Linked DNA regions of Homo sapiens: regions 2 and 3 are each linked to region 1. Evidence: fine-mapped expression QTL. A gene starts in region 1. Each other region holds a variant in brackets. All regions are shown on one strand. Distances are between the middles of the regions. Region 1 holds the start of TRIP12 (thyroid hormone receptor interactor 12). Region 2 overlaps FBXO36 (F-box protein 36). Region 3 has its middle 28 kb from the start of DNER.

Region 1 (7,525 bases):
TTTCTAGCCCTGGCCAGGTTTGGTGTCTCACCCCTGTAATCCCAGAACTTTGGGAGGCCAAGGCGGGCAGATCACTTGAGGCCAGGAGTTCAAGATCAGCCTGGCCAACATGGTGAAACCCCATCCCTACTAAAAATACAAAAATTAGCTGGGCATGGTGGCGGGTGCCTGTAATCCCAGGTACTCAGGAGGCTGAGGCAGGAGAATCACTTCAACCCAGAAGGTGGAGGTTGCAGTGAGCCGAGATCACCCCACTGCACTCCAGCCTGGATGACAGAGTGAGGCTCTTGTTGCAAAAACAAAAAAAAAACAAAGATCCTTTCCACCCCTAACACTTTATTAATCTACTGGTTTTCAAAGAATTAGAATCCAATATAAGAAAATATATGTAAACTACTAGAGCTAGAGTAAGAATAACAGTATTTTTTTTTTTGTTTTTGAGATGGGGTCTCACTCTGTTGCCCAGTGGTGAGATCTCGGCTCACTGCAACCTTTGTCTCCTGGGTTCAAGTGATTCTCCTGCCTCAGCCTACCCAGTGGCTGGGATTACAGGCTCATGCTACCATGCCCAGCTAATTTTTTTATTTTTAGTAGAGACAGGGTTTTACCATGTTGGCCAGGCTGGTGTTGAATTCCTGACCTCAAGTGATCCACCCGTCAGGCTCCCAAAATGCTGGAATTACAGGTGTGAGCCACCACACCTGGCCAAGTAAATCTTATTTATTTATTTATTTATTTTAAAGACTGAGTCTTGCTTTGTTGCCCAGGCTGGAGAGCAGTGGTGTGATCTCAGCTCACTGCAACCTTTGCTTCCAGGGTTCAAGCGATTCTCCTGCCTCAGCCTCCCGAGTAGCTAGGACTACAGGCGTGCATCACCATGCCCAGCTAATTTTTTGTATTTTTAGTAGAGATGGGGTTTTGCCATGTTGGCCAGGCTGGTCTCGAGCTCATGGCCTCAAGTGATCTGCCTGTGTCGGCCTCCCAAAGTGCTGAGATTACAGGCATGAGCTGTGCTCAGCCCCCCCTTTTTTTTTTTTTTTTTTTTAAGAGAAGGGGTCTTGCTATGTTGCCCAGGCTGGTCTGAAACTCCTTAGTTCAAGCAATCCTCCCACCTGAGCCTCCCAAAATTCTGGGATTACAGGTTTGAGCCACTGTGCCCAACCCTTGAGTGAATCTTTGATTTAGAAAGCAGCGCACTATTTTTTCTAAAGCTGGAGATCATCATTATAAAGATCAGCTTCGAGAAACTAAACTGACCCCAAGCTGTAATCCAAAAGTTATTTATTTGAATAAAACCCCTCTCCCAAGACCCAAAACAACATGGTATCAAGCAGTAAAAGAGAAGTGCCTGTATAAGCATACAGTATATTTCAAATGTTACTATATAAACAAAGAAAATGTTTATGTATAACATTTATATTCTGGACTATGTCAGTGGTGGTATGACACTAATGAGAGAAATATCTGCCCTCAAATCCATGTCAAATGTGCAGTTATTTGGATTTAAGGCCAACGAAAAAGATGCAGTGAAAAAGAGACTAAAAAACAGAATCAGCATGAAAGAAGGATTCATCTAAATCTGGGGCATAATTTGGATAATATACAACATTAAAAAAATAAAGACAGGAGAAAGGGGAGGAAATGTACAAGAAATAATTTTAGAAAGTCATTCCAGAAAAAAAATCTATCTTATAAAACATATTTTAATGCTAGTCTTTTAGTACTTATTTATGTCAGGCCACCTCTTACTGGATGTTTGGTTTCCTGTGCTGAGACTCAGAAAAATTGTCTTGTGGTTAGAAAATAGCATATTCTCAAGGCAGTTGACTGAAAAGTATATTTTTTTGGCATGCCATTTTTTACAACAAATTTTACTTTAAAAAGAGGGTGAATTAATTAGCTTGGAGATTAACTCTCACTGGTAGAAGTGTAGTGGATTTATTCAGCATGCTTAAAAAAGAAAATGGATCAGAATTTAGGATTTTATATATATGTAACTGACAGAACCTGAGATAAAGGAGAGTTTTTCACTTGCAAAAAATAAAAAATAAATAAATAAATAATAAAAATAAAGAAAGAAAAAGAAAAATTAAGAACACTGAAGGGATGGTGGGAAAGATTTCTTAAAAAAGAGTAGTTAGGGCCGGGCGCGGTGGCTCACGCCTGTAATGCCAGGAGATAGAGACCATCCTGGCTAACACGGTGAAACCCCATCTCAACTAAAAATACAAAAAATTAGCCGGGCGTGGTGGCGGGCGCCTGTAATCCCAGCTACTGGGGAGGCTGAGGTAGGAGAATGGTGTGAACCCAGGAGGCGGAGCTTGCAGTGAGCTGAGATTGAGCCACTGCACTCCAGCCTGGGCGACAGTGCGAGACGCTGCCTCAAAGAAAAAAAAAAAAAGAGTAGTTAGAGGAAGGCATGCGCCTAAGTTAGACTTGAGAGCAAAGTCTGAAGAACACCAACAACAGAATTATTCTTTAGGAAGCCGAATGCCAGGGAGCACTCCTAAGGATAATTTACTAAAATAAAAAGGTAACAAGATACTCAGCCTGGTGAGGCTTACAAATGAGAGAAATGAAGCATACTTGTAAAATACCAGACCTTCAGGGGAAAGAAAATGCAAAAAAAGACAAATTTTTAAAGGCTGTAAAAATTAAAACATTCTAACTTACTTGAGGTAGATAAAAATAGAAAATCATGTAAGATTAGAACAGATTATATTTTTGACCACTCATGTTAGGAGGTGAAGAAATGTTAGGATCATAAATCTTAAAGCCAGCCAGGCTCGGTGGCTCAAGTCTATAATCCTAGCAATTTGGGAGGCCGAGGCAGCTGGATCACCTGAGGTCAGGAGTTGGAGACCACTCTGGCCAAAATGGCGAAACCCCGTCTCTATTAAAAATACAAAAATTAGCTGGGTGTGGTGGCGCACGCCTGTAATCCCAGTTACTCGGGGGGCTGAGGCAGGAGAATCGCTTGAACCCAGGAGATGCGGAGGTTGCAGTGAGCTGAGATCGCGCCACTGCACTCCAGCCTGGGCAACAGAGGGAGACTCCCTCTCGATAAATAAACAAACAAATCTTAAAACAAATGGAAAAATCAATAATCCGTTTAAAAAATGTACAAGGCCGGGCGCGGTGGCTCACGCCTGTAATCCCAGCACTTTGGGAGGCCGAGGCAGGCGGATCACGAGATCAAGAGATCGAGACCATCCTGGCCAACATGGTGAAACGAGGTCGCAGTGAGCCGAGATCGCGCCACTGCACTCCAGCCTGGCGACAGAGCGAGACTCCGTCTCAAAAAAAAAAAAAAAAAAAAAAAACAACACCAAAAAAAAAGTACAGAAAAGGATACCTTTCAGTATTTCATACATCACTAAATGTGCAAAACCCCCTAAGAACAGTTTAATTAAAAATTTGAGTCTGACCCTGGGCCCACTGCCTATGAATTAGCCCTGCTCCGCAAGGAGCAGTACTGTTTTAAAAAAAATTTTTTTTGGACAGGCTGATTTTACATTTGTAATATTTCTAAATCTTAAATTAAAAAATATATATTAACATTTATATTTTAAAAGATGCTTTCAAAAATATAAAAAAATTAACTCATTACCTATTTTGTTTAAGGGCTCCTGGAAAAACTGAGGGAATGATCAATATGCACACCAAAACAAATATATACAAACTTCTAAATTTCATTTTATAGGAATAGTATCTATTGAAAGGGCAGGGTGCATGAATAACTCAGTGACAGGCGTAAACTCAGCCAGGATTAGAAACGTCTTCCCAATGGAGGCCCCGCTCAAGTTGAGAATTTCATGGACACAGTAAATCATCCAAAAGCCCACCTTCAATAACCAAAGTAGGCATAAAAATAGGCCGATGGTTACTTTGGAGATAATATAATCCTCGGTCTTATTGTTGTGGAGCAGATGTCATTATGGGTGGGGCTGAAGCGCAGAGCAGCTGAAACATTTTTATACCACCACCCGCACACTTTCAATGGGATAGAAGGGACTCCAAAAGGTAAGAGCTCCCAATCGTCAGTTGCTACTAGAAATAACTAAGTTTTGATGTGGCCGTGGCACGCGTAAAGGCCACAAAGAGATTTATAAAATTCTCCATGATTAATTCCTATCCTGGAAAAGAGGCAATCTCCTTTTCCCCTCCCTAGCCGGCTCCTCCTTGGGACACTTGGCTGAGTCGTTCTTTCCCTCCTTCTCACGCTGAGGTGAGGCCGCACGCAAGCCGGAGACGCCCGTTTTCCTCTTCGCGCGGAGGAAACTCTACGGGTAAGAAGCCGGGGTGGCGGGAAAGGAGCACGCGGCACCGCGGGGAGGCAGAGAAGGCTTGCCAGGGACTAGCCGGGCTCGGGGAGAGCAGGGACACGCGGGCCGTCGGACCGAGGAGGCCGAGGTGACGAGGAAAATCTCCCGGCGCGGAGCCGGGACTGGGCGCTTCCGGCGGGCTACGGTTGCTCTTGGCCTAGCACAGCCTGCGTCCCGGGCCCCAACCGGGCCAGGTAGGGAGTTAGGAGAGAGGGTAAACCGCGGCTCGCACTTGCCTGAGACCGGGTGACCAGTAACTGGTAATAGTCTTTGCTAGGCGGCGGGCCTTGTCCTACAGTTTCAAAGAGAGTCTCCGGCAGCCACGACGCCATCTTGGGACGCCACCGCCGTCGCTAAGACAACCAGGAAGGGGCGGGGCTTGGTTGGGGTCAAGGGGCCAAAACCCTAGTTTAAATTGAACCACGCTTATGAGCTGGCAGAAGGATTTCTAACTTGGGGCGATCGTCCCCTCTTCCAAGGGTCTTAGGGAACCCTGATCCGTGAAATTTCCAGCTCCAGGTCCCGGGTGACCCGAGGGGGAATTAGTTCCTGCTACCACGGAGGGGAGGGGGTGACCCCGGCGGAGGGATACCAAGTAGATCTCCACAGTCCCCTTCCTGGTCCCTCGAAGGGATCGGGCGGAGATCGGAGGCTGCTGAGAGAGTCGAGCCGGGAGGCGTGGGAGGGAGGGGCGATGTGATGGGCCGCCAGTAGGCAGCGGTGCCGGTCCCGCGGACGAGCCCGTAACCGGAGCCCGAGGACAAAGTAGTTCCCCGAGGGTGTCAGAGCAGGCGGGGAGGGAGGCGGCACGGGCGGAGGCGCACGCCGGGCGCGGTGCTGCGGCTCAGCTGATAATTGAAGGAACCCGGAGCCGCCGCCGCCGCGCCGCTGGGGGGGGTGGGGGGAGCTAGTGGAAGTTACTGCCGCGCCACCGAGTCCGGACCGGAGACTTTGGGGCCTAACTAGGTAATTGGGGCGCAGCTCTGGGCGGCGGGGGCAAGCCTTGGGGGAGGGGGCCAGCTGAGGGGTTGGGGGGGCGGGGGGAGGAGCTGGAACAGAAAGTCCCAGGAAGCCCGGTTGTGTCATCGCCGCGATTCGGCCCCCGCTTGGCCTGCTCCCGGCGCCGGCGGCGGCGGGGCCGCGGAAGGACCGGGCCGGGGGTGGACGGGAGAGACGCTCGAGGGCGGCCGCGGCCGGAGGGACCGGGGCCTGGCGGGAGGTAGGGGTCGCTGGGTCCCTCCTCCGGCTTCCCGCAATGAGGAGGGCCCTTCACAGAACCGGGGTAAGGCTTGCGGGTGTTGGGGAGCTCGGCGGGGACCAAGGGGGGCCGGAAGTGGGCTTTGGAGCTTGGAGGGTGTCTGGGAAGAGAGAAAGTGGGGGGCCGGAAGTGCAGGTGGGGGGTGTGAAGACGGCAAGGGTTCCCCGGAAATGGGACGAGGGGCCCGGAAATCGGGAAAGGGGAGGCTCCGGGGCCGTGGACGGCCCGGAAATGGAAACTAGGAAGCAGCTCCAGTGACAACAGTTGTGGGAAGCGAGGGTCAGAGAAGGGAGAGGCCAGAGAGACTTTAGACCGCAGTAAGGGGTTTCCTGCCCAGGGGGACGGCGAGGGACGGTTGAGGGAGGGCGAGCCCGGAGACGGGGTCTGCGCGGGGCAGTTTTTTAAGCCGTGGGAAGTTGAGGCTGAGGGAGGATGATGACGAGGGGGGCATGCAGGGAGGCCTAAAGAAGCCGAGAAACTTGACTGAGAGGAATAGAGTATCCTTTTAAATAGATCAGAATGGAAATTGGTGGTAGGTGGGTTTAACTAGGACTTGGGGGAGGGAGGTGGGCCAATTGTCACCCCAATCGTATTAGCATTCAGAGCGAGTCAGGCGATTAATTTATTTATATGTGGATTACATAAAACCTATTATTTACAACGTTTGTCCATCAGTTCAGCCCCTCTCCTTCCTTCTCCATAGTGAGTGGGTTTCTAGTACAGGAACAAGTTAGAGGGGAGTTCGAATAACGAAGGTAGTAAAACCTCAAATCCTGTCTTCCTCGGCGTCTCTCCCTTCCTCAGAATAAGAAATCCTTCATTTCCTAGACGGAAAAATGCGGAAAAACATAAAAACACATGTAAATCGGGGGGAAATCACACTTTGAACTCCTGGTGGGGGACAGGAGGGAATTGGTTACCTTACGTGGTGAGGAGATAACGGAAGGGGCAGCTTCCAAACCCTTAAGACAAATGTTGTGTTTTTTTGATAATGCTGTTTTACTTTGGGGGAGGTTTAGCCTAAGCATCGAGTCTGGTGGTGGGCATAGTTTAATTGCTTCTTTAGTTAATTGGGGGAGGGAATGTGTTTGTGTGTAAAGGTTGGGCCGGTGCGGGGGGAGGCGGGTACGGTTAATAGCGCAGTGAATCCGTTCTAAGTGGACGTCTAACTGCTCTCCTGCTGTCTCCTTTCCTAGTCGCGGTCCTCGATCTTGCCTGGGCTGCCAGATCACCCGATCTCCGGGCTTTACTCCGTTTTGTAGGCCCTTTAGTGATGTGTTTAACTTTATGTTCCTCTCGAGAGTCTCATTAGGTATTTTTGGCATTTCATTTTTTAAAGACCTAGCAAGTTGAGTCTCAGAGTCTCCTCTTTAAAAACAAAACAAAAAATACGGGGTAGAAAGTTGAAAGAGCTATTGAGTGGGGTAAAACGACGCTCAGAACAAAGGTCCTAGTTGTGTTAGAAAAAAAGGCAAGAGGCCTGTATATGAGGCCTGTGTGTGTCGCATTTACACCCCGGGGGGGTTGAGGAATGGAATTAGCAGAGGTTTAGAGACAATAAATTGTAGAGGATTTTATTGAGGCTGATTTTCATATTTACCACATGCAAAGTGATCAATATTAAGTGTAAGTTTTAAAGTATACAGAATTTCTAATTCTTTCTTTTGACACTTCCTGCTGTGTGTTCAGCCCCAGAAATGTTGAACTGCTGTGACTATCTTTGTGAGATTGAGGGAGTTTTATTTTAAGCTTAAGAGTACATAATATGATTGGGGTTTGTGGGCTTTGTACATGTCTGCCTTTCTATGAATGTGCCAATATCCATAAGAATTGGAAAACTGTAATTAAGATTATCATTGTTTCCATTCAATCCCCAGTTTTTCTGGAGTGTGAGCAGTTTTTAAGTCTGTTCAGCTGACATTTATACTACTTAGTTTGAGTC
Region 2 (7,525 bases), 27 kb before region 1:
AAATCTTTTTTTATTTTTTTTTTCTCTGAGACAAGATATCATTCTGTCATCCAGGCTGGAGTGCAGTGGCATGATCTCAGCTTACTGCAGCCAGGGCTCAAGTGATCCTCCCAACTCAGCCTCTGAGTAGCTGGGACTACAGGCATGTACCACTATGCTTGGCCAATTTTTTTTTTTTAATTTTTGGTAGAGATGAGGTTTTGCCATATTGCCCAGGCTGGTCTCAAACTCCTGAGCTCAAGCGATCTTCCCACCTTGGCCTCCCAAGGTTCTGAGATTACAGGCAAGAGCCACCACACCTGCCAAGAAATTTTTTTTTCTAACTGAATATTATTTTATTTTTCTTTTCTTTTTTTAATTTTTTGAGAGTCTCACTCTGTCGCCCAGGCTGGAGTGCAATGGCGCAATCTCCGCTCACTGCAACCTCCGCCTCCCGGGTTCAAGCAATTCTCCTGCTTCAGCCTTCCAAGTAGCTGGGATTACAGGCGCCTACCACCACGTCCAGCTAATTTTTTGTGTTTTTAGTAGAGGTTGGGTTTTGCCGTGTTGGCCAGGCTGGTCTCGAACTCCAGACCTCAGGTGATTCACTCGCCTCAGCCTCCCGAAGTGCTGGGATTACAGGCGTGAGCCACCGCACCCGGCCGTTTTCTTTTCAAATAGGCAATACATGCACATGGCAAAATGAACACAGTAAACAGGGAAAAACATCTCTCTCCATCCCAACCCGAGAAAATGTTTCCTAAAACCAAATATTGGTCACGTTGGCACCTCCCTCACCTCTCTGTTGAGTCAAAGTCCAAGTTTCTCAGGAATAGCGGGGAGTTCTCCATGTCATGATCTACTGGCCAGCATCAGGTAAGATGGCGTCCATCCCATCTGTAGTTCGTTATCAGTTGCACAGCTCAAGGCTGCAGGATTCTCCTCCTGGTACCCTCTTGGCAACACTGCCCCACTGGTGGCTGCAGAATAAGGTGCCTAATGGTTCCCTGAGTACTGCAGGAGGCTGGGGGGCTGGGAGGGTGTCTTAACCTGTCCAGCCACTACCTCCTTTAGCAAACTGCTGGGGATGCGAGGCACTTTAGATTTCTCGGCTGGCTCTCCCATTCATCTGTGGCCCTGTGAGAAAGGTCGGGGCGGAGGTTTGCTCAGCCACTGGTTTACTGACTTTCACTCCCCAACTTGATTGAAAGCTGAGGATGCCTCATGGGAAACAGCAGTATCTAACCTCATTCTCTGAGAATATCTTCTCCCTCTTGCAATCTGAGATGTTTGCTTGATTAGAGAATACAGAGATGGACTCTGCATATTCTAACCATTCTATTATCTGTGTCTTAAACTTTAAGCCTCTACCCAATGTTTGGGCTTTTGAAATTTAAAACTCCTAAACTCTTGCATCTCAAGGTGTTGTCTTGGGAAACTCCCCTAAGGCAAGGAATGAAGAGGATTTAAGGGAGAAAAGCAGAAACTAGAGGGAAAAGAAGAGGAGAAAATTCAAGGGAATGTCCTTCTCCACCAAACCTGAAGTTGTTTGGCCTGCAGTCTGGTTATGATAGTTATAAATTTTCAAACATACAATTTAAAATAAAGCAATGCCTAAAAAAAATTAGATACAGTAATTAAAATAACTTATGAAATGTTCTGTTAGGGAGAAAAAAACATTTTCTTGAAAAAAAGTTTAAATAAAACATTTCATGCAAAATTTTTTTTTCACCAAGTTATAGCCATGACCACAGTGCAAAACTTGGCGAGAGCTTTCGTGTCAATATTTATGAGGTTTCATTCTCAGGCTCAAATGGCCAAAGCATTCCAGGGTCCTTTGTGTTTAAGCTAAATTGGAATTGAGCAAAATCACTTGCAATCACTTGACAAGTCATATAATCTAGATCTTTCCTTGTTTCCACTTGCTGACTTCAGTTAAACAAAATTATGGGAGACCATTGTTTTGGCCTGTGCTCCTGCACTAGGCCCCAAGAGAGCAGACCAACTAAAATGGAATCACTTCTTCTAAATGCCCCATCATCCAACTGAAACTTTAAGGGAGAAGATAGATCCCAAAGCAGATCGATTTTCCCTGAAATCAGGAGATTCCAGTCTACCTGAGTAAGCATCATAAGGAAGTCCTTTCTGCTTTAATGCTTTACAAAAAAGTAGCCTGGGCTGGGCGCGGCGGCTCACGCCTGTAATCCCAGCTCTTTGGGAGGTCAAGGCAGGCAGATCACCTGAGATGAGGAGTTCAAGACCAGCCTGACCAACACGATGAAACCCCATCTCTACTAAAAATACAAAACTTAGCCAGGCATGGTGGCACGTGCCTGTAATCCCAGCTACTTGGGAGGCTGAGACAGGAGAATCACTTGAACCCAGGAGGCGGAGGTTGTAGTGAGCCGAGATCACGCCACTGAAATCCAGCCTGGGCAACAAAAGCGAAACTCCGTCTAAAAAAAAAGAAGAAAAAAAAGTTGCCTGGGACGGGCGCGGTGGCTCACGCCTGTAATCCTAGCACTTTGGGAGGCTGAGGTGGGTGGATAACGAGGTCAGGATATCGAGACCATCCTAGCTAACAAGGTGAAACCCTGTCTCTACTAAAAATACAAAAAATTAGCCGGGTGTGGTGGCACACACCTGTAGTCTCAGCTACTCGGGAGGCTGAGGCAGGAGAATCGCTTGAACCCAGGAGGCGGAGGTTGCAGCGAGCCAAGATCACAACACTGCACTCCAGTGTGGGCAACAGTGCGAGACTCCGTCTCAAAAATAAAATAAAATAAAATAAAATAATTAGTGGGGCATAATGGCGCATGCCTGTAATCCCAGATACTTGGGAGGCTGAGACAGGAGAATCACTTGAACCCAGAAGACAGTGGTTGCAGTGAGCCAAGATCACCCCACTGCACTCCAGCCTGGGCGGCTGAACGAGACTCTGTCTCAAAAAAAAAAAAAAAAAAAAAAGTAGCCTGAAGTAACCTGTGTTAACCAATATGATTTTTTTCCCTATTGTTCTGTTTCCTTGTTTTCCATCCTACAAAACCCACTGTTCGGCCATTGCTCAGTGGGAGCTCTCATTCCGTTCTGTGGAAAGGAGGCTGACCTGACTCATGAATTGCGAATAATAGCTAATTAGATCTATGATAAAATTTGTTGTAATGTTGTCTTTTGACATTTCTGACCTTAGACAGAACTTACTTTACCTCCATACCTCACATTCCTCCCTCACTATCCTGCACTCAGCTCTCTCTTTTCCCTTTGGGCTGTGATTTTATTTATTTATTTATTTTTGAGATGGAGTCTTGCTCTGTTGCCCAGTCTGGAGTGCCGTGGAGTGATCTCGGCTCACTGCAACCTCTGCCTCCTGGGTTCAAGCGATTCTCCTGCCTCAGCTTCCTGAGTAGCTGGGATTACAGGCACGTGCCACCATGCCCAGCTAATTTTTGTATTTTTAGTAGAGATGGGGTTTCACCATGCTGGCCAGGCTGGTCTCGAACCCCTGACCTCGTGATCCACCCACCTCAGGCTCCCAAAGTGCTGGGATTACAGGCATGAGCCACTGCGCCCAGCCTGGGCTGTGATTTTAAAGCAAGCTCCTGGTCTCACTGCTCTTGTCAGCTCCCCTGGGCCAGTGTCCCCTGTCCTAGAGCTCAGGGTGGCTGCTGGAGGCACTGAAGCTACATGCTATGATTAATTTTTCCTGAGACAAGTTAATGTAAAATTTCTTCCAGTTGGCTGCCATCTAATGTGTCTCATTTTCCAGAGACAAGTTTTTGTTTTTGTTTTTGTTTTGAGACGGAGTCTCGCTCTGTCACCCAGGCTGGAGTGCCCTGGCACGATCTCGGCTCACTGCAAGCTCCGCCTCCCAGGTTCACGCCATTCTCCTGCCTCAGCCTCCCGAGTAGCTGGGACTACAGGCGCCCGCCACCACGCCCGGCTAATTTTTGGTATTTTTAGTAGAGTCAGGGTTTCACCGTGTCAGCCAGGATGGTCTCAATCTCCTGACCTCGTGATCCGCCCGCCTTGGCCTCCCAAAGTGCTGGGATTACAGGTGTGAGCCACCATGCCTGGCAAAGAATATTGGAATATTTTTATACTTATAGACATCTACCAAGTATTTCTCAGCATCTATATACTTACACAGATTAATCTGTGTGTGTGTGTGTGTGTGTGTGTGT[A/GTGTA]TACATTTTACATGAATGGGATAATTCTAAACATGCTTGTCTATAATCTCTTCTTATACTTTAGTGTCACAGACATCTATTCATGTGATGTCTAAATATAGCATCATTATTTTTAGTGGCTTCACAGTGTTCCTTTTTACATAATTTTAATTTACTTAACCAATTTTCTTTGAAGGACTTTTATTTTACTCTTCTCCACTCCCTATTTGTGTAATTATTTCCTTAGGGTAAATTCCCTGAGGTGGGATGCCAGAATAAAGGACGTGCACACGTTACACTTGACAAAACATTGCTAAGCTGTCTTTGGGAAGCACATCAGACAGAACTAGGTCCAGTTGAATGAGACAACATCCAAAAGGGTGGCTTATACAGACAGGCATTTATGTAAAAAAAAGAGGCATCCTGAGGCTGGGCGCAGTGGCTCATGCCTGTAATCCCAGCACTTTAGGAGGCCAAGGCGGGCGGATCACGAGGTCAGGAGTTTAAGACCAGCCTGGCCAATATGGTGAAACCCCGTCTCCACTAAAAAATACAAAAATTAGCCGGGTGTGGTGGCCGGCGCCTGTAGTCCCAGCTACTAGGGAGGCTGAGGCAGGATAATCAGTTGAACTCGGGAGGCGAAGGCTGCAGTGAGCTGAGATCATGCCACTGCGCTCCAGCCTGGGCAACAGAATGAGACTTCGTCTCAAAAAAATAAAAAATAAAATAAAATAAAATAAAGAGGCAGTAGGCAGTCCATAACCCAGGGAACCAGGCCCCTTTCCATTTGGGTTTTCCGTCACTTTCAGAATTTGGCTGCTTTTGCGTGGTACCAGATAGCTGCTGAAGTCCTAGCCACAGAATCTGCATTCTAGACAGTAGGAAGGAGGAAGAGATGAAAAGGGTCCAACTCTCACAGACTCTTCTGTGTAGTCACAGTCACCCCTTCCACTGCCATTCCCTTGGCCAGAATTTAGTCATGTGGCTAACTGTAGCTGCAAGGGAGGATGAGAAATGAAGTCTTTTTTTTTTTTTTTTTTTCTCTAAAGCCCAAGTGTTCGGCTAAAAGTCAGATAATTGTTTACTAAGGAAAAGAGAAAATGGATATTGGGGGCAACTAATGGTTTCTGCCACAGGAAGAATGTACTAATTTACACTCCTTGGGACATCACACAGAGGAGGCCTTTTCCCATGCCTTTACCAACACTGTTTTTTCAGACTGTTCCTGCTCTAAAAGCAATTCGTTACTTACAATGAAAAATATTTAACCCAACCTCAAATAACTTGTGTAGATTAGAACACCAATATCAATGATGTACATTTCTCCCCAAAAGTAAAAAGAACATGTAAATGTGGGGACACAAGTGTTCCTCTGCCTTAACTTCTTAAATGTTTATTTTTAAAAACATAATTTTTTTTTTTTTTGTAGAGAAAGGGTCTTGTTATGTTACTTAGGCGGCTCTTGAACTCCTGGTCTCAATGAACCTTCTGTCTTGGCCTCCCAAAGTGCTGGGATTAATGGCGTGAGCCACCACACCCAGCCTGACTTCTAAATGTTGAAGCTCTGTCCTTAGTGACATCCCTCCTCTGTCTAGGTAATCTAATCCAAATGGTTTTCAGTGCTGCAGAGTCAAAATCTGTATCTTCACTCTTGATGTTGAATCCTACTAAATTATGCAGCTGCTTACTGTGCACACCCACCTGTAATCCACAGGGGCAGTTTATACTCAGCTATAAAAAACTGATCTCATCATCTTCCCTTTGAAACCTACCTAGTCCACTTCCTGTATTCCTTATTTTGGTGGCACTAGTTGAGTCATTCTAGACTTTCTTAGCCTCTATCATCACAAAATATCAACTCCATGACTAAATTCTATTGATTTCACTTCCTTAATATAACTTGACATTCAACTCCGTGGTACTTTAGAGGATCATGACAAAATCTAATAAGAAAGCTCTCTGCCTCCATGGGCTTAAACTGATCCAAGCAATCTTCTACACAGCAGCCAAAGGCTGCTTACTAAGATGCTGGTGTCGATGTGATCCCTTTTTCTTCCCCATGGCCCAAATCCTTGGGGTGGCATAGAAGGCCAAGGAGTGACCCCTGTCCATCTCTCCTTCAGCATCATCTCATACTAGCCACTGACTATGCCCTACATTTCAGCACATCACTGTACTTCCCAACTATAGTATCACAATTCACTGACTGCTAAAATGAATCCCTCCTGCCTAGAATTATTCCAGCTCCCTACTTCTTTACTCTGTAAAATATAACTTTTGAGATTCATATCATATAGTCACAACCTACATAAAACCCTTCCTGCCTTACTTCCTTGCTTTGTGCCATTTTTGTATTCTATACTTGCTTCTTATTGTTATTTATTTACTTTTGAGACAGAGTTTCGCTCTTGTTGTCCAGGCTGGAGTGCAATGGTGTGATCTCGGCTCACTGCAACCTCCGCCTCCCGGGTTCAAGTGATTCTCCTGCCTCAGCCTCCCAAGTAGCTGAGATTACAGGCACCTGCCACCATGCCCAGCTAATTTTTTGTATTTTTAGTAGAGACGGGATTTCACCATGTTGGCCAGGCTGGTCTGGAACTCCTGACCTTAGGTGATCCACTAGCCTCAGCCTCCCAAAGTGCTAGGATTATAGGCATGAGCCACAGCGCCTGACTTCTATACTTGCTTTTAATCCAACAGCAAATAGGACTAATATTTATTAATGCAACAAATATGTACTGAGTTCACACTGTGCTTGGCATTGTACTAAAAGCTGGATTCATGACCATGTGCACGCTGAACATTAGGCTCTTACAGTGTTTAGTCTACACAGCTTACATTAGAAGAGGCTAATTTCCATTCACCATCTCTTGTTTGCTAGAAAAGAAATTGTCTCTCCTCTATCAGTCTTTAAGAGATGCTAAGAAACTGATGTTGCCTGTTGCTGATCATGTCGAGATATTTTCTTCAATGTCTTGTTGCTTATTCAAGTTTTTACCTTTGCTTTTATGACTCCATGTTGTTGGCTGTCACTATCCAGAGTTAACTGGATGTTTAAGACACAAAAATTTGGCTTATTATTTCCTAAGCTTTCTCCTCAAACTCACTCCTGAAAAAGGCCAAGTTAAGGGGATTCTTGGCAGAGATGCAGGCAGATCTAACAGGATGAATGACTAGGCAAAGATTGGGGAAAGCGTGTTCCAAGTGGAGGAGTAGCATAAGCAAAGGCTGAATGAAGGATAGAGGTGACAATGGGCGAGTTGAAAAGATAATTTTTACAAGGGGGTAGGACGAGCATAAACTATGCTGCAGAGGCTTAGCTCACAGCACACCTTAAACACAGCAGTGCATCAAGACCTGGCTTGTATCCACCTGGATCATACATG
Region 3 (7,525 bases), 180 kb after region 1:
AGGCTGGTCTTGTACTCCTGGCCTCAAGTGATCCTCCCACCTCAGTCTCCCAAAGTGTTGGGATTATAGGCATGAGCCACTGTACCTGGCTTTGGCCTCACTCTTACTGGAATGTTTGGCCAACTTCTGACGTTTATTCTTGACCATGAGAGCTATTTTTTCCCTTCTTGGGAGAATGCACTTTTCTAACTAGGGATCTATGGACAGATTTAAGCAGTCTTAGGGCAAAAAGATGGGAGGCTGATGGAGTGAGTAAAGCTATCCTGGGTTCCGATCCCAGCCTGCCTCTGCCTTCCCACTACTGACTCTTTCTGAGCTTCGGCTTCCTCAGTCAAAAAGTAAGAATGATACTATCTGTCTCATAGTTTAGTTTAGGGGATTAAATTAGATAAAATAACATAAATCCTAAGCCGTGTCTGGCACATGGTAGATAATGAAAGATCAGCCTCTCTTTCTACCTTTCCTCTGCTCACTGGTGTCTCCATCACCTTTGCCTTCTCTTCTACCTTGTCATTACTCAGTAGATGCAATTACAGATTTAACACAATTACAAATAAAATTAAAATATCAGCATGATTATTTGTAAATCTAGGCAAGCTAATTCCTAAATGTATATGGAAAGGCAAATAAACTAGAATAGCCAAAACGACTTTGAAAAAGAAAATTAAAGCTGGAGGAATCCCACTCTCTGACTTTAGGACTTGCTATAAAGTTAGAGTAATCAAGACAGTGTGATATTAGCAAAGGGATTTATATTGGCATATAGATGAATGAAACAGGTAGAGAGTCCAGAAATAGACTCACACATATGTGTTCGACTAATTTTTTGACAAAGATGCAAAGAATGGAGGAAATTCAGTGGAGGAAAGACAGCCTTCTCAACAAATGGCAAAGGAACAATTAGACATCCATAGGCCAAAAAAATGAACTTTGAACTAAACCTCCACCTTATATAAAAATTAACTCAAAACGGAGCATAGAACTGCATGTAAAACAAAAAACTATAAAACAAGGCTGGGACTAGGGTGAAAAAAGGAATGTACCTAGGATGCAAAATTTAAGGAGGCACTCACTTTAGTTATGCAAGTATGATCCTGAAAGTGAGAGGCTTTTTAAATTTTGTGCCCTAGGCACCTCCCTTATGTCACCCTAGTCCAGGTTTTGCTATACAGCTTTAAGAAGAAAACATAAGAGAACATCTTCACAGCCTGAGTTTAAACAAAGGGCTCTTAGCCATAACATAAAACCACAATTTATGAAAGAAAAAAATCAATAAATTGGACTTCTCAAGATTAAGAACTTTTGTCAAAGACACTGGTAAGAGAATTGAAAGACAAATTAACAAACTGGGAGAAAATATTTGCAAATCACATATTTGACCAAGGATTTGTATATGTAATAGACATATATTCTGGTACATTGTATACAGAATATGTAAAGAGCTCTCAAAACAGAACAATACAAAAAGAAACAATCTAATGAAAAAGTGGACAAAGGACTTGGTTATTTGCCAAAGAGTGCTATGGTCTGAATGTGTCCCCTGAAATTCATATGTTGAAAGTTATTCACCAATGTGATAATATTATGAGGCAGAGACTTTAGAAGGTCACTGAGTCATGGGAGTGGGATTAGGGCCCTTATGAAAGGGATTGAGGGAGTGGATTTGCCCCTTTCCATCTTTTCCACCATGTGAAGACACAGCGTTCATTCATAGGACACCATCTTGGAAGCAGAAAGCTGGCCTCATCAGACATCAAATCTGCTTCTTGATCATGGACTTCCCATCCTCCCAGAACTGTAAGAAATACATTTCTATTGTTTATACACTACCCAGTCTAAGGTATTTTGTTATAGAAGCACAAACAGACCAAGACACATTATATACAGATGGAAAATAAGTATATGGGAAGACGTTTAAAAGCATTAGCCATTAGGAAAATGCAAATTAAAACCATAATTAGGTATAGTGATACACCATAAAATGCAAATTAAAACCATAATTAGTGTATGGTGATACACCAATTAGAATACTAAAATAAAAAATACTGACAATACCAAGTGCTGATGAAAATGGGAGCAACTGGAACTCTCCTACATGGCTGATGAGAAAGGAAAATGGTACAGCCACTCTGAAAAACAGTTTGGCAATTTCATAGAAAGTTAAACCTACACTTACCACATGAGCCAGCAGACGCATTTCTACTTATTTACCTCAGAGAAATGAAAACGTATGTTTGCACAAAAACCTGTACACAGTATTCATAGCAACTTGCTTCATAATTGTCAAAAACAGCAAACAACCGAAATATCATTCCATGGATGAATGGATTTAAAAAAGCCCTGTGGTACATTTACACAATGGAATACTACTTATCTATCAAAAGGAATGAGCTGTTGATAGATGCAACAACTTGGATGATTCTCAGAGGCATGCTGAATGAAAGTAGTCAACCTTTTTATTTTTTTTAATTTAATTAATTAATTTATTTATTTATTTTTATTGATCATTCTTGGGTGTTTCTCGCAGAGGGGGATTTGGCAGGGTCATAGGACAATAGTGGAGGGAAGGTCAGCAGATAAACAAGTGAACAAAGGTCTCTGGTTTTCCTAGGCAGAGGGCCCTGCGGCCTTCCGCAGTGTTTGTGTCCCTGGGTACTTGAGATTAGGGAGTGGTGATGACTCTTAACGAGCATGCTGCCTTCAAGCATCTGTTTAACAAAGCACATCTTGCCCCGCCCTTAATCCATTTAACCCTGAGTGGACACAGCACATGTTTCAGAGAGCACAGGGTTGGGGGTAAGGTCACAGATCAACAGGATAAGAATTTTTCTTAGTACAGAGCAAAACGAAAAGTCTCCCATGTCTACCCCTTTCTACACAGACATGGCAACCATCCGATTTCTCAATCCTCTCCCCACCTTTCCCCCCTTTCTATTCCACAAAACTGCCATTGTCATCATGGCCCGTTCTCAATGAGTTGTTGGGTACACCTCCCAGACGGGGTGGTGGCCGGGCAGAGGGGCTCCTCACTTCCCAGTAGGGGCGGCCGGGCAGAGGTGCCCCTCACCTCCTGGACGGGGTGGCTGGCCAGGAGGGGGGCTGACCCCCCCACCTCCCTCCCGGACGGGGCGGCTGGCTGGGCGGGGGGCTGATTCCCCCACCTCCCTCCCGGACGGGGTGGCTGGCCGGGCAGAGGGGCTCCTCACTTCCCAGTAGAGGCGGCCGGGCAGAGGTGCCCCTCACCTCCCGGACGGGGCGGCTGGCCGGGCGGGGGGCTGACCCCCCCTCCACCTCCCTCCCGGATGGGGCGGCTGGCCGGGCAGAGGGGCTCCTCACTTCCCAGTAGGGGCGGCTGGGCAGAGGCGCCCCTCACCTCCCGGACGGGGCGGCTGGCCGGGTGGGGGGCTGACCCCCGCCACCTCCCTCCCAGACGGGGCGGCTGGCCGGGCAGGGGGCTGACCCCCCCACCTCCCTCCCGGACGGGGCGGCTGGCCTGGCGGGGGCTGACCCCCCCACCTCCCTCCCGGACGGGGCGGCTGGCGGGGCGGGAGGCTGAGCCCCCCGCCTCCCTCCCAGACGGGGCGGCTGGCCGGGCGGGGGGCTGACCCCCCACCTTCCTCCCGGACGGGGTGGCTGGCCTGGCGGGGGCTGACCCCCACCTCCCTCCCGGACGGGGTGGCTGCTGGGCGGAGACGCTTCTCACTTCCCAGACAGGGTGGCTGCCGGGCGGAGGGTCTCCTCACTTCTCAGACGGGGCGGCCGGGCAGAGACGCTCCTCACCTCCCGGATGGGGTCGGGCCGGGCAGAGGCGCTCCTCACATCCCAGATGGGGCGGCGGGGCAGAGGCGCTCCCCACATCTCAGACGATGGGCGGCCGGGCAGAGACGCTCCTCACTTCCTAGATGGGATGGCGGCCGGGAAGAGGCGCTCCTCACTTTCCAGACTGGACAGCCAGGCAGAGGGGCTCCTCACGTCCCAGACGATGGGCAGCCAGGCAGAGACGCTCCTCACTTCCCAGACGGGGTGGCGGCCAGGCAGAGGCTGCAATCTCGGCACTTTGGGAGGCCAAGGCAGGCGGCTGGGAGGTGGAGGTTGTAGCCAGCCGAGATCACGCCACTGCACTCCAGCCTGGGCACCATTGAGCACTGAGTGAACCAGACTCCGTCTGCAATCC[T/C]GGCACCTCGGGAGGCCGAGGCTGGCGGATCACTCGCGGTTAGGAGCTGGAGACCAGCCCAGCCAACACAGCGAAACCCCGTCTCCACCAAAAAAATATGAAAACCAGTCAGTCGTGGTGGCGCGCGCCTGCAATCGCAGGCACTCGGCAGGCTGAGGCAGGAGAATCAGGCAGGGAGGTTGCAGTGAGCCGAGATGGCAGCAGTACAGTCCAGCTTTGGCTCGGCATCAGAGGGAGACTGTGGAAAGAGAGGGAGAGGGAGGCCGTGGAAAGAGAGGGAGAGGGAGACAATGGGGAGAGGGAGAGGGACAGGGACAGGGACAGGGACAGTAGTCAACCTTTTAAAGAGATTATATATTGCAGGCCAGGCACAGTAGCTCACGCCTGTAATCCCAGCACTTTGGGAGTCCGAGTCAGGGGTATCATGAGGTCAAGAGACTGAGACCATCCTGGCCAACACGGTGAAACCCCATCTCTACTAAAAATACAAAAAATTATCTGGTTGTGGTGGTGTGTACCTGTAGTCCCAGCTACTTGGGAGGCTGAGGCAGGAGAATTGCTTGAACCCGGGAGGCGGAGGTTGCAGTGAGCTGAGATCGCACCACTGCACTCCAGCCTGGTGACAGAGCAAGACCCCATCTCAAACAAAAAAAAAAAAAAAAAAAAAAAGAGATTACATATTGCATGCTTCTTTTTGTATGACATTATTGAAAAGACAAACTAAAAGTCACAGGATCAGAGCACAGATTGGTGGTTGACATGGGTTTTGGGTGGGGAGAGGGTATGAGTACAGAAGGCTAGCATGAGGAGTTTTTTGCACTGCTTTTGTATTCTCATTATGGTGGTTACCTGAATCTATGTGTGTGTTAAAATTCATAGGCCTGTGCACTCAAAAAGTCAATTTTATTATTTGTTAATTTAAAAAATTATGCCTGCAGAAAAGTACACATAGCATTAGTATACAACTTGATGAATTTTTTCACACTGAACACATCCATGTAACCCACACCCAGATCAAAAGGGAGCATTATCAGAACATCAGAAATCTCCCTTGTGCCCTATTTCAACTACTATCCCCCTCAAGAGCAACCACTCTCTAGACTTCTAACAACATAGATTAGTTTTGTATGTTTTAGTACTTCACGCATTTCACATATTATCAAACACTTAATCACTTACTTAGAAGAAATCTAGGACATATTATTGCTGTAGTAATGACACCTTAATGAAAAAACCCTAATGGGAGAGAGGATCTGGGGGGATAATGAGTAAGAGTTCAAGGGCAATGGGATAGTTAATATTTGTCTTGCTGGGTGAAGAAAAGATCAGTATAAAGGTGGTCACTGCTGCTACAGAGAGAATGTTCTAGAGTCTGCCTTCATAGCCAGTGCCTGGGGTGGTCCTCAGCATTGCAGAGAATCATACAAATACTTGTTTACACTTAGTTCAGGGAAATTTGGAATCATGCTCCTAGGGGCCGTGTGTGGAAAATAGATTGTTTGAGCCCAAGACTCATCAGCCTTGGGCTCCTGACTTAGTATGCAGAGCTGGAGACACATCCAGCCACTTGCCTCCCTCTTCTTCTCATCCAGATTCCTCACTCTTATTCCATCCACTCGCCTCCCCATTCTTCTCATCCAGATTCCTTACTCTTATCCACAACATATGTTCCCTGGCTGTTTCCCGGCGTTCTCTGTTATCCCTGAAGGTCCAGAGGGTCTCCTGTCTTCTTGTATCTCTGATCCAGCCATTTGCTTGATAATCTTTCAGAGGATGGGAAAGCATCTCTTACAATGGCCCAAAGTGAAAGTGGCTGGAGATGAGCACGGGAGCGAACATGGGCAGAACAATCTGAAGTGAGACCTTCTTATAGCTATCAAAGATGGAGTCTGTACCTTGCCTTTTGAAAACAGGAAATGCACAGCATAGGCCTTTATTTCATATTATCTGCGTCTCCCATCACTTGTCCAAGTGTGTTTGCAACATTTATACTCTGTGGAAACATAACACTCAAACTCTTGGCTCTGAAATCAGCTATCAACACCCTGACACATTGCCTCTAAAGATGGTTATCTCATTTCATGGGCTCAGTTTCTCAGAGATAATACACGACAACTATTATTTCCATTCTGTTTTACCTTCCTTTTCTAGTTTCTTAAGGTGGAAGATTAGGTTTTTTATTTGGGATCCTCCTCCTCCTTCTCCTTCTTCTTTGACAAGATTTTACTCTGTCACCCAGGCTGGAGTGCAGGAATACAGTGACATGATCATAGTTCACTGCAGCCTCAAACTCCTGGGCTCAAGTAATCCTACCACCTCAGCATCCTAAGTAGCTGGGACAACAGGTGCATGCCACTGGGCCTGACTAATTTTTCCTTTTTTTTCCCACTTTGTTACCCAGGCTGGTCTCGAACTCCTAGCTTCAAGCAATCCTTCTGCTTCAGCCTCCCAAAGTGCTGGGATTACAGGCGTGGGCCACCACAGCCAGGCTTCTTTTTAAATATAGGTGTTACAACTACATATTTCCTTCTAAGCACTGCTTTCAGTACATCCCACAGGTTTTGCTATAATGTGTTTTTGTTTTTATTTATCTCATAGCATTTTCTAATTTCCCTTGTATTTCATTTTTTGCCCTTTGGTTATTTTGGAGTATGTTGTTTAATTACCACATATTTGTAAAGTTTCCCTTTTTGTCTGTTATTGATTTTAAATTTCATTCCATTGTGGGTATAGAACATACTTTGTTAGATTTTAATCCTTTTATTTTTATTTTTTGAGACAAGATCTTGCTCTGACACCCAGGCTGTAGTGCAGTGGTGTGATCTCAGCTCATTGCAACCTCTGCCTCCCAGGCTCAAGTGACCTTCCTACCTCAGCCTCCCGAGTAGACGGAACTACAGGCATGCACCACCATGCCCAGGTAAGTTTTCTATTTTTAGTATAGATGGTGTTTAACCATGTTGCCCAGGTTGGTCTCAAACTCCTGGGCTCAAGCAATCTGACCACCTTGGCCTCCCAAAGTTCTGGGATTACAGGCATGAGCCACTGTTTTAAGACTGGGTATTCTGTTGTTGTTGGGTGGAGTGTTATACAGATGGTTGTTAGGACTAATTTGTTAATAGTATTGTTGAAGTCTTCTCTTGTTGATCTTCTGCTTACGTTGTTTTGTTCACTGTTGAAGTGGGTATTGAAGTCTGTAACTGTTACTCTTTAGTTGTCCTTTCAATTCTGTCAGTGTTGCTTCATGTATTTTGGAGCTTTGTTGTTAGGTGAATATGTGTTTATAATTGTTATATCTTCCTGATGAATTGACCATTTCATCATTATAAAATGTCTTTTGTCTCTAGTAAC

The links.
Region 2: its variant is fine-mapped to the expression of TRIP12 in whole blood (INTERVAL, PIP above 0.99).
Region 3: its variant is fine-mapped to the expression of TRIP12 in whole blood (TOPMed, PIP 0.98).

The regions. Positions count from the first base shown.
Region 1 is chr2:229,919,646-229,927,170 of GRCh38, reverse strand. TRIP12 (thyroid hormone receptor interactor 12) reads left to right here and starts at 5,162. Exons shown (of 42, transcript NM_001348323.3): 1 at 5,162-5,291. It overlaps FBXO36 (F-box protein 36), which reads right to left and starts at 4,668. Exons shown (of 4, transcript NM_174899.5): 1 at 4,562-4,668. The coding sequence starts at 4,657. RefSeq lists enhancers at 4,390-4,449, 5,106-5,606, 5,607-6,107, 6,745-6,844 and a silencer at 5,280-5,669.
Region 2 is chr2:229,946,174-229,953,698 of GRCh38, reverse strand. All of the region lies in intron 1 of FBXO36 (F-box protein 36), which reads right to left. Among named protein-coding and RNA genes, the nearest start is that of FBXO36, 27 kb to the right of the region's middle. RefSeq lists an enhancer at 1-736. The variant A/GTGTA (reference allele first, on the strand shown) is at 4,161.
Region 3 is chr2:229,739,099-229,746,623 of GRCh38, reverse strand. No RefSeq gene overlaps it. Among named protein-coding and RNA genes, the nearest start is that of DNER, 28 kb to the right of the region's middle. RefSeq lists an enhancer at 2,418-3,238. The variant T/C (reference allele first, on the strand shown) is at 4,175.